2 separate regions of the Homo sapiens genome follow, and region 2 is linked to region 1. A link means that fine-mapping ties the variant in region 1 to the expression of a gene that starts in the linked region. Tissue or cell type: prefrontal cortex. Region 1 holds a variant in brackets; the other region holds the start of a gene. All regions are shown on one strand. Distances are between the middles of the regions.

Region 1 (7,263 bases):
TTTCTTTTCATTAAGCTAAATTCTGCATGTAAGTACCTGTGAGTGTAGTTTCCCAGTGTTTTCTAATCAGCTCTTCCAAAAGTTCTACCATATTTGTCCAGACGTGATCAAACACTTCTGCTGCCACGGCATCTTTGACACAGTCACGCGGGGAAACAGGAGGAAGTCCGAGTTTGCGCCATTTCCTACCGGGCTGAGCTGGTTTTTGTTCAAGACATTCATCATCACTAAGAATAAAAACCCACTCCAATTACTAAAAGATCAATGCTTAGAGTTAAAATAATTCTATCTACACACATTCACGTATGTACATGTATACATATATTAATAAACATTCTTTGTTAAACAGCATCGTTCTTTTTTAACATATATAATTTTTTTCCATTACACATGAATAAAAACAAGAAACCAACTCCTGGTTTCATTGATCTTTCTTTTTTTTTCTAGTCTCTTCATTTATTTCGGCTCTGAGCTTTGTTATTTCCTTCCTTCTACTAAGTTTGGGCTTAGTTTGTTCTTTTTCTCATTCCTTCAAGTATAAAGTTAGGTTGTTTATTTCAGATATGTCTTTTTTCTCAATGTAGGCATTTATTGCCATAGGCTTCCCTTTTAGAGCTGCTTCTACTGTACCCCATAAGTTTGGTTTTAATATGTTGTGTTTCCATTTTAATTTGTCTCATTATATTTTTTGATTTCCCTTTAGGTTTCTTCTTTGACCTACTGCCTGGTTGTTGAGGAGCAGGTTGTTTAGTTTACACATATTTGTGAGTTTTCTAGTTTTCTTCCTGTTATTGACTTTCAGTTTTGTACCACTGAGATCAGAAAAGATGCTTGATTTCAGTCTTCTCAAATGTGTTAAGACTTGTTTTATCAGTGTTACTTTTTAATGTGCCAATTTTCAATCACGGGGCAAAGTTTTATCATGTAATAGTTGTAGTTTTTGATTAAGAACAAAATACAAGGCTGGGCACAGTGGCTCACGCCTGTAATCCCAGCACTTTGGGAGGCCGAGGCAGAAGGATCACGAGGTCAGGAGATCGACACCATCCTGGCTAACACGGTGAAACCCCGTCTCTACTAAAAAAAAATTCAAAAAATTATCCGGGCGTGGTGGTGGGCGCCTGCAGTTCCAGCTACTCGGGAGGCTGAGGGAGGAGAATGGCGTGAACCCGGGAGGCGGAGTTTGCAGTCAGCCGAGCTCGCACGGCTGCACTCTAGCCTGGGCGACAGAGCGAGACTCCGTCTCAAAAAAAAAAAAAGAACAAAATACGAATTTAGTACAGAGGCAGGAACTCCCCTTAGGCCCTTTTGGGCAGCCAGGGCTGGGGAACCTGGAGCCCCCAGGACCAGGGCTGCGAGGAGCCTTGTCTGCTTTTACAAGGGCACTGAACACCCTCTTCGCTGCTCCCGCACGTGCACCGCTGGCTAGGAATCCAAAAGCTCTGGGGAGTACATTACTCTCAAAAGAACAGAAATCTTTTGGGTGAGTAAAAAATACACAAAACACTTAATGAGCATACGATAACAATAAATGTCAAATAAATTAATATTATTTTATGAGGTCAATGTCAAATAAGATTCTATTTACTCCTCTTTTCTGTCAAAAGCGAAATACTCCTCAATCTTTCCATCCACATGGTAAACCTCTTCTTCCAGGGATGAACGTGCCGTTAGGTCAGCAACCCCTGTGTCATCAGGGCCTGGCAGGGCAGAGGCTGAGAGTGCTGCTGGGACTATTTGAGAGCCAGAAATGCACAACCTATGGGAAAAAAACAGATTCTACATGGGAGTTTATAGAACACCAAGAACGCAATGCTTAAACGATCATGGCGGATCTTTCAATTATCTGTAAAGTACAGAATCCCCCCCTCCCAAAACGGTTGAATATTACATTGGACAAAACTCACGTCCTTAAAAACACTTTAATACAGGCATCATTAAACATTTTAAGGGCTTCTTAAAAGCCTAAATTATTCTATGAGTTTGTACCCTCTTTGGTTGCAGTGAAAGGACTGCATTGTGTCACGGCACACCAAATATGTGTGAATGGCATAGAGTCATCAAAATCTGCTAGTGAACAGAAACGACAGGACAGAGCTTCATTTCTCCTGCTGCCACCGCCTGGAGGCTTATAATCCATCACAGTGAGGCGGTTTCCATCCTGCACCCAGTCCACCTTTCACAGCGCCTTTGGAACAAACATGGAAGGTAACTACCATGTGTGTGCATGTGTGTTCCATATATATATTACACATCTCTCTATATACACACATATACACCTATCATCAATTCAGAATCAAAAGCTTCTTATAAAAATTGTTCTCTGTACCTGCCCTTCATCAGAATCTAAATTTCCAAAATGGGTGGAGCCAAGGCTTATAGATGAGATAAACATGAAAAAGTATAACTAAAATACAGCTAACAATACTTTTTGAGAGTCACTTATCTGAACATACTCTCTGATGTTGCTGCTGTGTCCGCAGGCACTGAGCGGGGGTCTGTGGACTGCGGAGGCAGGAGTGCTGCCCTGGAAATGCTGGACGCCTTTGTCAGTGGGCAGGATCAGCTGTCTTCCTAATACTCTGCGAGGTCAAAGAGAAGCTACTGACATTTTTGATCAGACAAAGGGAAAATGTTTGGAGATTTTAAAAGTAGGAGACAATGATTTTGAAGGCATGTGTATGATAAGATGTGTATGGGAACGTGGGAAGCATCACGCATCACAGAAGTGTGACTTTGAGAGTTTAGGCCAGACTGTTCTTCCACTGACTCAGTCTCAGGCAAGGTTCTCAGGCTAATTTCATTTGTTTGTCTTTCATTTGCAAAACAGGATAATAATGGTTACCTTGCAGGGCTGATGAATGGCTTAGAGATCATATATGACAGACTCAGGTGTCTAAGGCAACACTGGGCACAAAGAAGCCCTCCATACATATTAACTAATACACAGTTAAACACAAACATAACAAGAATACAAATATATAAATATGCACACTTGGCTTATGTACCTGACAATCTTTTCCCACCTTCCCTCCATTTCTATCAATGATGTAAGACAGCAGTGACAAGAATAAGTGTGAGCTCCCGAATTTCTGGTGAGTGATCATCCCCAGAAAAGTGAGTATCCACAACTAGTATCTAGTGGACATATCATACTCTTTAGGGCAGGTGGCTTATTAAGGGTTGAAAAGAAAAAAAAAAACAACCCTAGTTGGTCAAGATTTCTGTAAAAGTTACCTAGTGAATGTAACCAGGAAATCCAGCCACATTTACATGAGTGTTCTGATTCATTCTCCCCAGACAGAATCCA[C/G]AGGAACTCAGGTAACTTTGATAAACTGTCCCCCAGTACGTTGGCTGAGTGACTGAAAGATAAGCTTGCCTTTGGCCGGGCGCGGTGGCTCATGCCTGTAATCCCAGCACTTTGGGAGGCTGAGGCGGGCGGATCACGAGTTCAGGAGATCAAGACCATCCTGGCTAACACGGTGAAACCCCGTCTCTACTAAAAATAAAAAAAATTAGCCGGGCGTGGTGGCAGGTGCCTGTAGTCCCAGCTACTCGGGAGGCTGAGGCAGGAGGATGGCGTGAACCAAGGAGGCTGAGATTGCAGTGAGCTGAGATCGCGCCACTGCACTCCAGCCTGGGCGACAGAGCAAGACTCCATCTCAAAAAAAAAAAAAAAAAAAAAAAGCAAAAAGAAAAGAAAAGCTTGCCTTCATACCCAATCCATATTCTCCATCTTTGATATGAAAAGTAACACATGCTCCTCCCTACATAAGGAATGGGTGAGATGGGAAGACCCATCTATCCAGCCGTTCAGCAAATCATCTCTGCCCACCCTCGCTGTGTTCTGTGATGAAGACAGACATGTGCTGCTCACACACAGTGAATGTGAAGGTAAGAGGTGGCCTCCACCATTCTTGCATTCGTATATGTGTCATGCCCTTCTCAGGATGGCCTGAATTTGCTTCTCACAAATTAAAAGGCGCTTGAGTACTGGAATGTCTCAGTATTTCCTCAGACGCCGTAAGAGGAAAGTGATCTCTCAGTGAAGGACTGCGCTCTGCATCCATATTCTGACTGGGCAGGCACTTTCACACCAAATGTACTGAATGTATCGAGGCAGGTCAGGGGTGGGTGCTTGGAAAACCCACCCCAGAGAACTTCCACCACCAAGGTCCCACCTCAAATGGAGGGATCTTCTTGTCCACTCCCCGCATTCGGCCAGCAGACTCTGGGTCTGAGGGTTCACTTTCCCTTCAAATAACATTTCCTCCACCTCCCAGAGTAACCGCTGCACTGACTGTGAACTGGCTTCGTCAAATTCCTAAACAGAAATGCACACTTGGTTACAACACTGCAAGTTACAGAACTGCGGGCTTCTGGATCAACGCTACTTATACATTTACTGTCACCCACTATGTAGGAGGGTGCATCACTTGGTAAAAAGATGGTGGCTTTGCAGTCAGACACACCTGTGCTCTAGCTGTTACCTTTCTGAGAAATGCCATCTCATTCTGAGCCTCGGATTCTTTTACTGTTAAATAGAGAAAACTTCTGCCACGGAAGTTATGAGACTCAAGAATTTGCATAGATAGAGGTATAGATGGACGTGTTCATACTGCCACAGACATCAGCGTAGACACACAGACACGTCCACATCTGTATGTCTGCAAACACAGGCAGCTCCTCACAGAGCTGTGCCTGACACACCTAAGCACACCTGCAAAATACAAGATTTTTTTTTCTTCTGGTGATACCACAGAAAAGAAAATTACTTTTGTAGAAAAGGCCATTAATCTCCTTAAATCAATGAACTGGAAAAAAAAATCCTTAGTTATCCTAAGAAGTGTGGTTATTAGGGTGAGGCCTGAGTATTAATGGAAGTTATACGAATTTCCCTGGTAATTCCATTAAACGTTGTACTAAAAGAATCCTAGAATTTGGACAGAGTAAAGCAGTGGTGCTCAGCCTTCTACCAAGGAAGGCGGGCTTGAGGGATGGTGGTGAGTGGGCGTAAGGGAGAGGAAGGAGGCAGCTGCCCCTAAGTAAGGGAGCTGCGTGCGTGAAAGGTCCTCCTAGCAGTGCTGAGCTGAGTCCCTTTCAGACCCCCTCGGTGCACCTGCCCTGCCGGCTCCCCTGAGAATCACAGCTGCACAGCTGCGGACAGAAGCGGATTCCCATGTGCAGTGGGAGTGGGGAACCACTTTTAAAGAAAGCAAAGAGGCTGGGCGCAGTGGCTCATGCCATGGGAGGCCCAGGCAGGCGGATCACAACGTCAGGAGTTCGAAACCAGCCTGGCCAACATGGTGAAACACCGTCTCTACTAAAAATACAAAAATTAACTGGGCATGGCGGTGCACACTTGTAATCCCAGCTACTCGGGAGGCTGAGACAGGAGTATTGCTTGAACCTGGTAGGCGGAGGTTGCAGTGAGCCGACATGGCACCACTGCACCTCAGCTTGAGTGACAGAGCAAGACTCTGTCTTAAAAAAAAAAAAGAGAGAAAAGGCCGGACGCGGTGGCTCACGCCTGTAATCCCAGCACTTTGGGAGGCCGAGACGGGCGGATCACGAGGTCAGGAGATCGAGACCATCCTGGCTAACACGGTGAAACCCCGTCTCTATTAAAAATACAAAAAATTAGCCGGGCGTGGTGGTGGGCGCCTGTGGTCCCAGCTACTCGGGAGGCTGAGGCAGGAGAATGGCGTGAACCCGGGAGGCGGAGCTTGCAGTGAGCCGAGATCGCGCCCCTGCACTCCAGCCTGGGCGACAGAGCGAGACTCCGTCTCAAAAAAAAAAAAAAAAAAAAAAAAGAGACAGAGAGAGAGAGAAAGCAAGCAAGCAAAAAACAACAACAACAACAACAAAACACCCAGCATAAACGAGGTAAAACAGAACACCCAAGGTGCTGCAGCCAGGTGGGCCTTAAAAAGGAGGGCTGTGTCCTGGGATCCACGGAGACCCTTGGAGGGAGGGGGAGGGAGGAGACTGGAGCCAGTGAGCTCCTGAGCAAGCTGGAGCAGTGGAGGCAGAGCTCGCCCAGCCAGAATCCCAGGCTCACACAGACAAAAGCAGTTCAGAGGCAACAGCGCCCCCAGCGGTAGGGGGTGAAGGTGAAATATCCGACTGGGAATACTGGCGGGGAGTTCTCTAATCACAGTGGCTGCCACAGCTTTTACTTTTCCAGCATTTCTTTCTTATTCAAGTCCTGAATTTCCGGCCATGGATACCATCCAAGAAGTCACAAGGAGCACACACCCGGAGAGCCGGCTGCAGGGTGGAAACAAGAAAACTGCGGGCAGCTAAGACGGGGCCAGAAGGTCACGAGGGAGTTCTGTTTTCCTCCACGGTTCGTGATCTATTATTTTCACATGTAACATGTACATGCTTTTACATGTATGTACATGTATGTATGCAATAGGTCATGCTTTTATAATTGGTAAAAATAATTTTGAATATAAGGAAGCAACTCTTCACTATAAACTGTAATTACAAGATTATCCAAAATATTCTGAGACATACGTCATCTCTCCAGGAATAAACGGAGCCCCTCTCCGTGGATGAGCCGGTGGTAGAGCTCTGTGTGGCCGACCCAGACCAAGAGGTGTGGGCTCCCGTGGGTGTATGGCTTCCGCTGGAGGAAAAGGATGACAAGGATTTGCTGCAGGAATGAACATGAGCAAAGAAATCACATTTGCTGGAAGGGCTTGGATGGCTAAGTGGCTTCACTTTTCTGAGCCTGCTTCCTCTTTCTTTCATTAAATATATTTATTAATTTCACAGTATACTAATTTTGAAATATTTTTACAGTGTGATGTTTACACTAGGTTAAAAATAAAACTGCATCTTACTTTTAGAAATTCATGGCCAGTCACTAACTTCCTTCCCACATTTGTTACGGGCATTTTGTGATTTTGTAATCTGAAGCAAGGTGAATTCTTACCAGGTATATTTATCAATGGCTTTCTGCACATTTCTTGTAAAATGCGTAGGTAAAGAATCTTTGCTCCTCACAGTAAAACCGTGCCTTCTACGTCCTTCTGACAGTCCTCTTCTGGAAATAAAATAAAACATGACGAGTCTCCCTAATGTAATAATATAGTTTTATTCATTAAGACTTTTAAAATTTCTCTTTTATACAAAGTTGCTCCTCTCGTTCTGCCACATCCCTCCAAACCCACCTGTGCATGAGCGCACACACACACACACACACACACACACACACACCCCATCCTGATGAAACTGAGACTTAGGATGTCATCA
Region 2 (7,263 bases), 48 kb after region 1:
TCCTTCAAGGTGCAAAGTCTGCAGTATTGAAAGAAAAGCCGTCTTAATACTTTCTTCCTTCCCCTTTGTCTCTTATGTTTTAGTGATTGAAAAAGGAGTGGGGTATGATGAGAGGAAGGGAATGTGAGTAGTCGTGGATCTGAAAGGAAAAATGGTATGCTCAGAGGGCCAGTCTGCTTCCTGCCTGTGTGTGCCTCTACCTGCTGCTGCAGACAGTAGGAACACACAAACTCAGGAGGATTCTGCAAAGCACCTAGCTGTGTATATTACTTCTCATGGCACTTACCTAAAATTCAATTTCATGGCCAGATGCAGTGGCTCATGCCTGTAATCCCAGCAATGCCCAGGTGGGAAGATTGCTTGAGGCCAGGAGTTCAAGACCAGCCTGGGCAACATAGGGAGACCCCGTCTCCACAGAAACATTTTTAAAATTGGCCAGGCATAGTAGCTCACACCTGTAGTCCCAGCTACTCGAGAGTCTGAGACGGGAGAATCAGATCGCTTGAGCCTGGGAGGTTGAGGCTGCAATGAACAGTGATCATACCACTGCACTCCAACCTGGGTGACAGAAGGAGACCTCATCTCAAAAAGTAATAATAATTTAAAAATTCAATTTCTTCACTGTCCATAAAATTGAATGCATTTGTTAATTCAGAATAATCTCTTATGTAAATAATGCCAAATGCAGTGTTATTCAAAAAGTATCTATTCCAAATATTTGCACAATATAAACATGAGCTAATATGTTCAAGAATTGAAACTAACACCAGTTTCACTGGCCATGCTGCATATTTCAGTGCCTATTTGTTAAAAGCACTAAGACTAGAGTTTAAGGTCAGTGTGTAGATCTGTTTGCTCATAAAACATTAATTGCATAAATGTTAAGGACCAGTTGCCAATAACAAAGATCTAATTCCTCAGGCATATGTATTCCAGTGAGTTTTCCAAAAGCAATTAACTGATAGGGAAAACTATCAGTTGATAAACATATGTCATAATATAGTATTTTTTAATGAGTGGGAACAACTTTTTGCTTAACTGCTTATTTTCTTTTTTGTTGTTGTTTTTTTGAGACGGAGTCTCTCTCTCTGTCGCCCAGGTTGGAGCGCAATGGTGCGATCTTGGCTCACTGCAAGCTCCGCCTCCCGGGTTCACGCCATCATCCTCTTGCCTCAGCCTTCCGAGTAGCTGGGACTACAGGCACGTACCACCACGCCCGGCTAATTTTTTGTATTTTTAGTAGAGACGGGGTTTCATCGTGTTAGCCAGGATGGTCTCGATCTCCTGACCTCATGATCCGCCCGCCTCGGCCTCCCAAAGTGCTGGGATTACAGGCGTGAGCCACCGTGCCCGGCCGCTTGTTTTCATATTGACATGAATATCATTCAATTTTGTGAAACTGTAATTATTTAAATTGTGAGTGAGTCAGGATCAGTATGAATGCAAAAATTACTCAGGATTTTTTGGAGGGAGTAGGGAATGGCCTCACTAGATTACAATGCAGAAACCTCAGTCTGTGAATTGGCTCATCTGTCTTTGACCATTTCACTATTTCTTTGCAGCATTCAGGATGAAAATTTACCCACTCAAGAATAGCTAACGATATGCTCCACTCTAAAAATTAAAATTCATCCTAGTTCTAAAACACATTTTAAAAGAGCAATGTTTTTATCACGACTCTTGGAAGTGAAAGGGGTGTTGTGTGGGTGTGTGTGTGTTGAGGGAATCGGCCTCCGATTCCCAGTGAAAATGTTCCCATGAAGTCAACGTTTCTGCAGTGACTCAGGGCACTGTGGAAAGCTCTCAGGAGCTCTAGGGTAATAATCAGACGTGTCCTGGCCATTACAACTCCATTTGTGTCAGATGATGTCATGCATATGTAAATTAACTAGATGTCACACAAAGGAGACCCATCCCACTTAGGATAAGACTAGGGACTGGTCCTTAGACATTAGGAAAGCACCAGGTCTCACCACTTCTTAAAACACTTGCTGCAGACGTGTGTATTCGGTTTCCCTGCACACCTGCTATATTCTGAGACAAAGAAAGGGACTTCAAAAAGTCCTTAAGAAAACCAAACAAACACTCTAAGTAGCAATGCTTCTGGTAGAAGAGAAACAAAATTCTGTCCCTTCCTTCAAGGCCCCTTAGGATTCACTCTGAGAAAGCTGGACAAAGCATGTCACAGCTTATGTCTGAAAGCCCGCAAAGCCAAGGAGTAAAAACCCAGGAAACGTGCAAGGAGGGTGCCCAGGGGGTTATGAAAGTTACTACAAATATTTCATTTCCTGAAGTGCACCTGCGAAGGTGAGTGCGGCAGGCGGAGGGGTCGGGGGTCCCGGCAAAAGGTACACGCGCCCGGACCACGCTGCTACTCACGCTTCGCCATCCCCGGAGTCGCCGTCCGAGGCCCCCTCCTCGCCGATGTCAGGCAGCGTAAGGAACAGGGTTCTGGGGCCAGCCCCGGGGGCCACGCAGGCGCCGAGCTCTCGCTCTCCGGGGCCAGGCTGGAGCGGGTTCCTGGGGAGCGCGGCCCAGACCCCGCCGGGGCCCGAGGGCGGCCGCGCTGGGACCACCAGGCGAGCAGGGGAGCAGCCCCCGCCGGAGGGAGTGGGGGGCTGGGGCGGGGCTTTACCCGCTCTAGGGCTACTGGGCCAAGAGAGCAGGGTCCCCACTGCTCCCGCGGCGCGGCTGGCGGCGGAGCCCCGGGAGTAGGGGGAGGAGAGCAGCGGGGCGGGCGACCGCCGCGAGGCGGAGGGGGAGTCCGGAGCCAGGGCGCGGAGGAGGGTCGGGGCGGTACCCAACGGGGTGCCCGCCCTGGAGCCCCCCGACCCTGCAGCGGCAGCACCTCCCGAGGGTCTGGAGGAGGGGCCTGCGGGGGGCGCCGTCGAGGTCTCGAAGAGTTTGGCCAAGAGAGACCCAAGGTCCAGCACAGCAGCCTTCATGCCTCGACAGTGGACACGCCGTCCTCGCCGCCGCCCGAGAGTTCAGACCGCGGAGATCCGGCCGAGGCGGCCCGGGCCGGGGCGAGGAGCCTGAGGTCCCCGCACCCGGAGCCCCGGAGGCCCCTGGCTCCCTCTCCTCCCCGAGGACGCTCAGCTCCGCGCCGCTGGGGTCGCCCTTCCCCGGCCCGGGTCCGTCCGCCGAGCGCCCCGGCTGCGGAGAGCAGCCCCGCCTCGTCCCAGCGCCGTGAGACCCCCGAGGGCCGAAGGGCCAGGAGCCCCGGGAAGCGCGGCCGCCGCCCGCCCCAGACGCCCGCCGCCCGCCGCCCGCCGCCCGCGGTTGCTACGTTCAACACACCCGGCCGCGCTCCAGGCTAATTGGGCCCCAGGTGCGGCTCGGGCTGTGCCCGCGGGGGACGTCCCACTCCCCGCCTGGTTCCGCCTTAAAGGAACACGCCCCCATTTCCCCTGCGCCCCGAGCCTCGCAGATCCCATCCGCCGAGCTCAGGGCCCAGGGCTGGGAAAGAGAATCCTGGCTCCAGAAGGTTCTGGAACTTACCCAGCCTGACAAGCTTGCACGTGCTGGGGTCAGGCCACCTCTCTGACGATAGGGAAGGTGGGTAGAAAGATGTATTTGGGCGAACGAGCTTGAAACAGCAGCATCCACTCCCCCACCCCAGGGTCCTACTCAAACCCTGTTACTAAGGGTGGGGTGGGAGCAACCGCGAGGTGCGCCACCCACTAACCTGCAAACAAGACCGGCTCTGAGAGCTGAAGTAGAAAGACCTACGCACACCTGTTTAAACACCTGTCGGAGTGAACCAAGAGACTGTGTAATTCAAATGTTTGAGAACTCAAATTATAATCGGAACGACTACAAATTCAAAGACAGATATGGAAGGCAACGTTTTCTATTCAGTGGAATAAATTGTATTTTGCTTAATCTGAAAAATATGTGTGAAAGGTAGAGCGTATAGGTGCGAGCATCTAAAGGGGTGTGGGGTCAGTGTTGAACAGAGTTAAAAAATAAGATACTGCAGCCAGGCTCGGTGGCTCATACCTGTAATCCCAGCACCGGGATTGGGAGGTGGGAGGATGGCTTGAGCCCAGGAGTTCCAGGCCAGCCTGGGCAACAACATAGGGAGACCCCATCTCTACAAATATTTAAAAAAAAAAAAAATGCCGGGCCTGGTGGCGCATGCCTGTAGTCCCAGGTACTCGGGAGGCTGAGGTGATCGCTTGGGCCTGGAGTGAGCCGTGATCGCACCACTGCATTCCAGCCTGGGCAGTAGAGTGAGACCCTGTGTCAAAAAAATAGTAATGAGATATTGATGGAGTTTGTCCATTAATATTCAGGAGAGGATCTCAGGAGATACATTTCCTGATGTGGGGTAGGGAAAAGAGATGAATTAAGTCTGGCAGTGAATAAACTGACATTCATGCTTATATACTTGAATCTTTTGTAAGTTATCAAACTGGAGTCTGAGCCACGGTAAACTTCCAGGTAATGCTAAGTTTTGCGTTATTTGGAGGCAGTTAACAAGTCTTCTGTCATGATCCCTTTTCTACATCTAACTGCCACCAACATGTACTGGGCACTTGTCTGCTTCAAGATTGCATTAAGCACAGACATGCAAAGAAAGAGCGGTTCTCTTCCCAGAGCATGGAATAATCTGCTTCACGTCATATGCTGAGTGTCCCGTGAGTGCCCTGGAAGACAAGCACAGGTGATGGCAGCCATCGTGGTCAACATTCGCTTGGGGACAGCAGAGCATTTGTGTGCCTAAGGGAAGTAAGAGACATGGGTGACTAGGGTGAGATTTTAAAGGCCCTTGGATGTTCGGAGAGGCGAGAGCACGCAGTCGTCAGCGTGTGAAGCACCAGCACACAGCGAAGAATCAAAATGAGAGAAAAAGGGAATTAAGAACAGACACCTCTGAGAGCAGCAATGGTAACAAGAGGGAGAGGGTTGGGGGCAAACCAGGGAAGCAGTGCCAACTCCGTCACAACGCAGAGACACCAGGAACAGGCTGCTGTTGAACCATGAACTTTTCTCGTGCTCCCTTGTTCCCCTTCTGCAGCACTCACCAGGTAGCCTCAGAAGTCTGGACGTTCCCTCCGAACACTGGACTGTTTTCATGTAGCACTCATTCAGGACTGCAAAGCAGTTTCCCACAGATTTTGTTCATCTTACAAGGATCTTATTCTGATTCATGGAGTAATTAAATCCTTAATATATCAGGTCACTTTCAATGCAAATAGAAGTTATTTCTAGAGTATGTGCTTTCAGTGAGTAAGGGGCTAGTCGCTCCATTGAATCTGAACATATGGAACTTGAAATAACAGCAAGGGAGGGCCATTGTGGAGCAAAGTTCGAGTCAGCTCACCTAGATCCTTGGGGGTAGCACTTGTTTGCTGCCAGAACTCAGGATTCCTGATATTTCAGACTCAGAAATCTGATGGGCCCAGCACCTTCACAGCTGACCAGTGTCTCTGTGTGGAGCCCCACTAATCTGACTCACAAAGCACTGATGCGGCCGGGTGCGGTGGCTCACGCCTGTAATCCCAGCACTTTGGGAGGCCGAGCGGGCGGAGGAGGTCAGGAGATCGAGACTATCCTGGCTAACACGGTGAAACCCTGTCTCTACTAAAAATACAAAAAATTAGCCGGGTGTGGTGGTGGGCGCCTGTAGTCCCAGCTACTCGGGAGGCTGAGGCAGGAGAATGGCGTGAACCTGGGAGGTGGAGCTTGCAGTGAGCCAAGATCTCGCCACTGCACTCCAGCCTGGGTGACAATGCGAGACTCCGTCTCAAAAAAAAAAAAAAAAAAAAAGCACTGATGCAGTGTTCCATCCTCTGCTCTTTCCCCATAAGAGGAATCCCTTTAGGACCAAATTAATTCCAATGGTTGTTAGGTGAGTGTGGAATCAAAGCAAAGGGAAGGAATCATATGGTTCACATACAGGGGGCATTAACCATTAGAGTCCAGCACCCTTCTCCTTCAGGAGCAACTGTTCCTGAACAGTGGTGCATTCATGCCGCTGTCTTGGGCTCTCTGGTTCTAGATCTTTCCATGTTTCCCTCAATAACCACTTCTCTTCTATGGACAAGCACTTTGGGAGGCTGAGGCAGGCAGATCACTTGAAGTCGGGAGGTCAAGACCCGCCTGACCAACATGGAGAAACCCCATCTCTACTACAAATACAAAAATTAGCTGGGTGTGGTGCCGGGTCCCTGTAATCCCAGCTACTTGGGAGGCTGAGGCAGGGGAATCGCTTGGACCCAGGAAGCGGATGTTGCGGTGAGTCAAGATCGTGCCATTGCACTCCAGCCTGGGCAAGAAGAGCGAAACTCCGTCTCAAATAATAATAATAATAATAATAATAATAATAATAATAATAATAATAAATAAAGCTAGAGAACAGCTGCATACCCTTCCAGATCCTGGCCTTGAAAGCATTCTGTCTCTAAGGTGTGTCTGCATGTGTCCCAGCTGTGGGCACATTTGAGTTGTGTGCCCCCAGAAGATGTGTTGAAGTCCCACCCCCAGTTCTTGTGAATGTGATCTTATTTGGAAATAGGATCTTCACAGATGTAATCAAGTTAAGCTGAGGTCAGTAGGATGGGTCCTTGTCCAGTACGATGCGTATACTCTTAAGAAGAGGGAGATGTGGGCACAGACACACAGGGGGAGCACCACAGGATGACAGAGGCAGAGGCTGGAGTGAAGCAGCTGCAAGCCGAAGGGTGCTCCAGGCTGATGGCCACTACCAGACGCTAAGAAGAGGCAGGGATGACTCCTCCCCTACAGGGCCCCACAAACACCTCAGTGAGGACTTCCCATTTCCAGAACTGTGAGAAAAAAAAAAATTCTGTTGTTTTAAGCCACCCAGCACTTTGTTATGGCAATCCTAGGAAAGATCCATGATTGGGGTATTAATTAATTTTGGGGTACTTCAAGATCATAGTATCTTGCTTGTACCTCTATGAAAGTCTTTAGTGGGTAAATTCACTCTAAAAAACTGGCTACAAATTGAAATGGTCATCGTAATTGTTTTAAATCTATAGGGAGAATGCAAGAATCATAAAAAGGAGATGGTGGTGGTGGGGAAGAAGTATCATCCTTGGTTACGGTAGTAGGTGTAGCATTCTGACCAGCCAGCCCCATGAAGAAGGCACACTGAAAGAATAGTGGGTCCTTTTCTTTGGAGGGCCTTCCTTTGAAAATGACCCATAATTGCAAACGTGATAAGCCATTCTTAGCAACTTGTCCAGTCCTTTGTACCCATTGTTCATCCATCAACAGCCTTTTGTAGATGCG

The links. PIP is the estimated chance that this variant, and not a neighbour inherited with it, causes the effect.
Region 2: it holds the start of FAM149A, and the variant in region 1 is fine-mapped to the expression of FAM149A in prefrontal cortex (CommonMind, PIP 0.95).

Annotation. Positions count from the first base shown.
Region 1 is chr4:186,148,964-186,156,226 of GRCh38, reverse strand. It overlaps FAM149A (family with sequence similarity 149 member A), which reads right to left. Exons shown (of 14, transcript NM_001395294.1): 2 at 6,944-7,054; 3 at 6,523-6,661; 4 at 4,182-4,324; 5 at 2,457-2,582; 6 at 1,589-1,759; 7 at 37-227. Among named protein-coding and RNA genes, the nearest start is that of FLJ38576, 39 kb to the left of the region's middle. RefSeq lists a silencer at 6,094-6,289 and an enhancer at 6,308-7,263. The variant C/G (reference allele first, on the strand shown) is at 3,311.
Region 2 is chr4:186,100,759-186,108,021 of GRCh38, reverse strand. It overlaps FAM149A (family with sequence similarity 149 member A), which reads right to left and starts at 3,318. Exons shown (of 14, transcript NM_001395294.1): 1 at 2,380-3,318. The coding sequence starts at 2,945. It overlaps LOC124900171 (a long non-coding RNA gene), which reads right to left and starts at 328. Exons shown (of 2, transcript XR_007058421.1): 1 at 287-328. RefSeq lists a silencer at 3,339-3,398.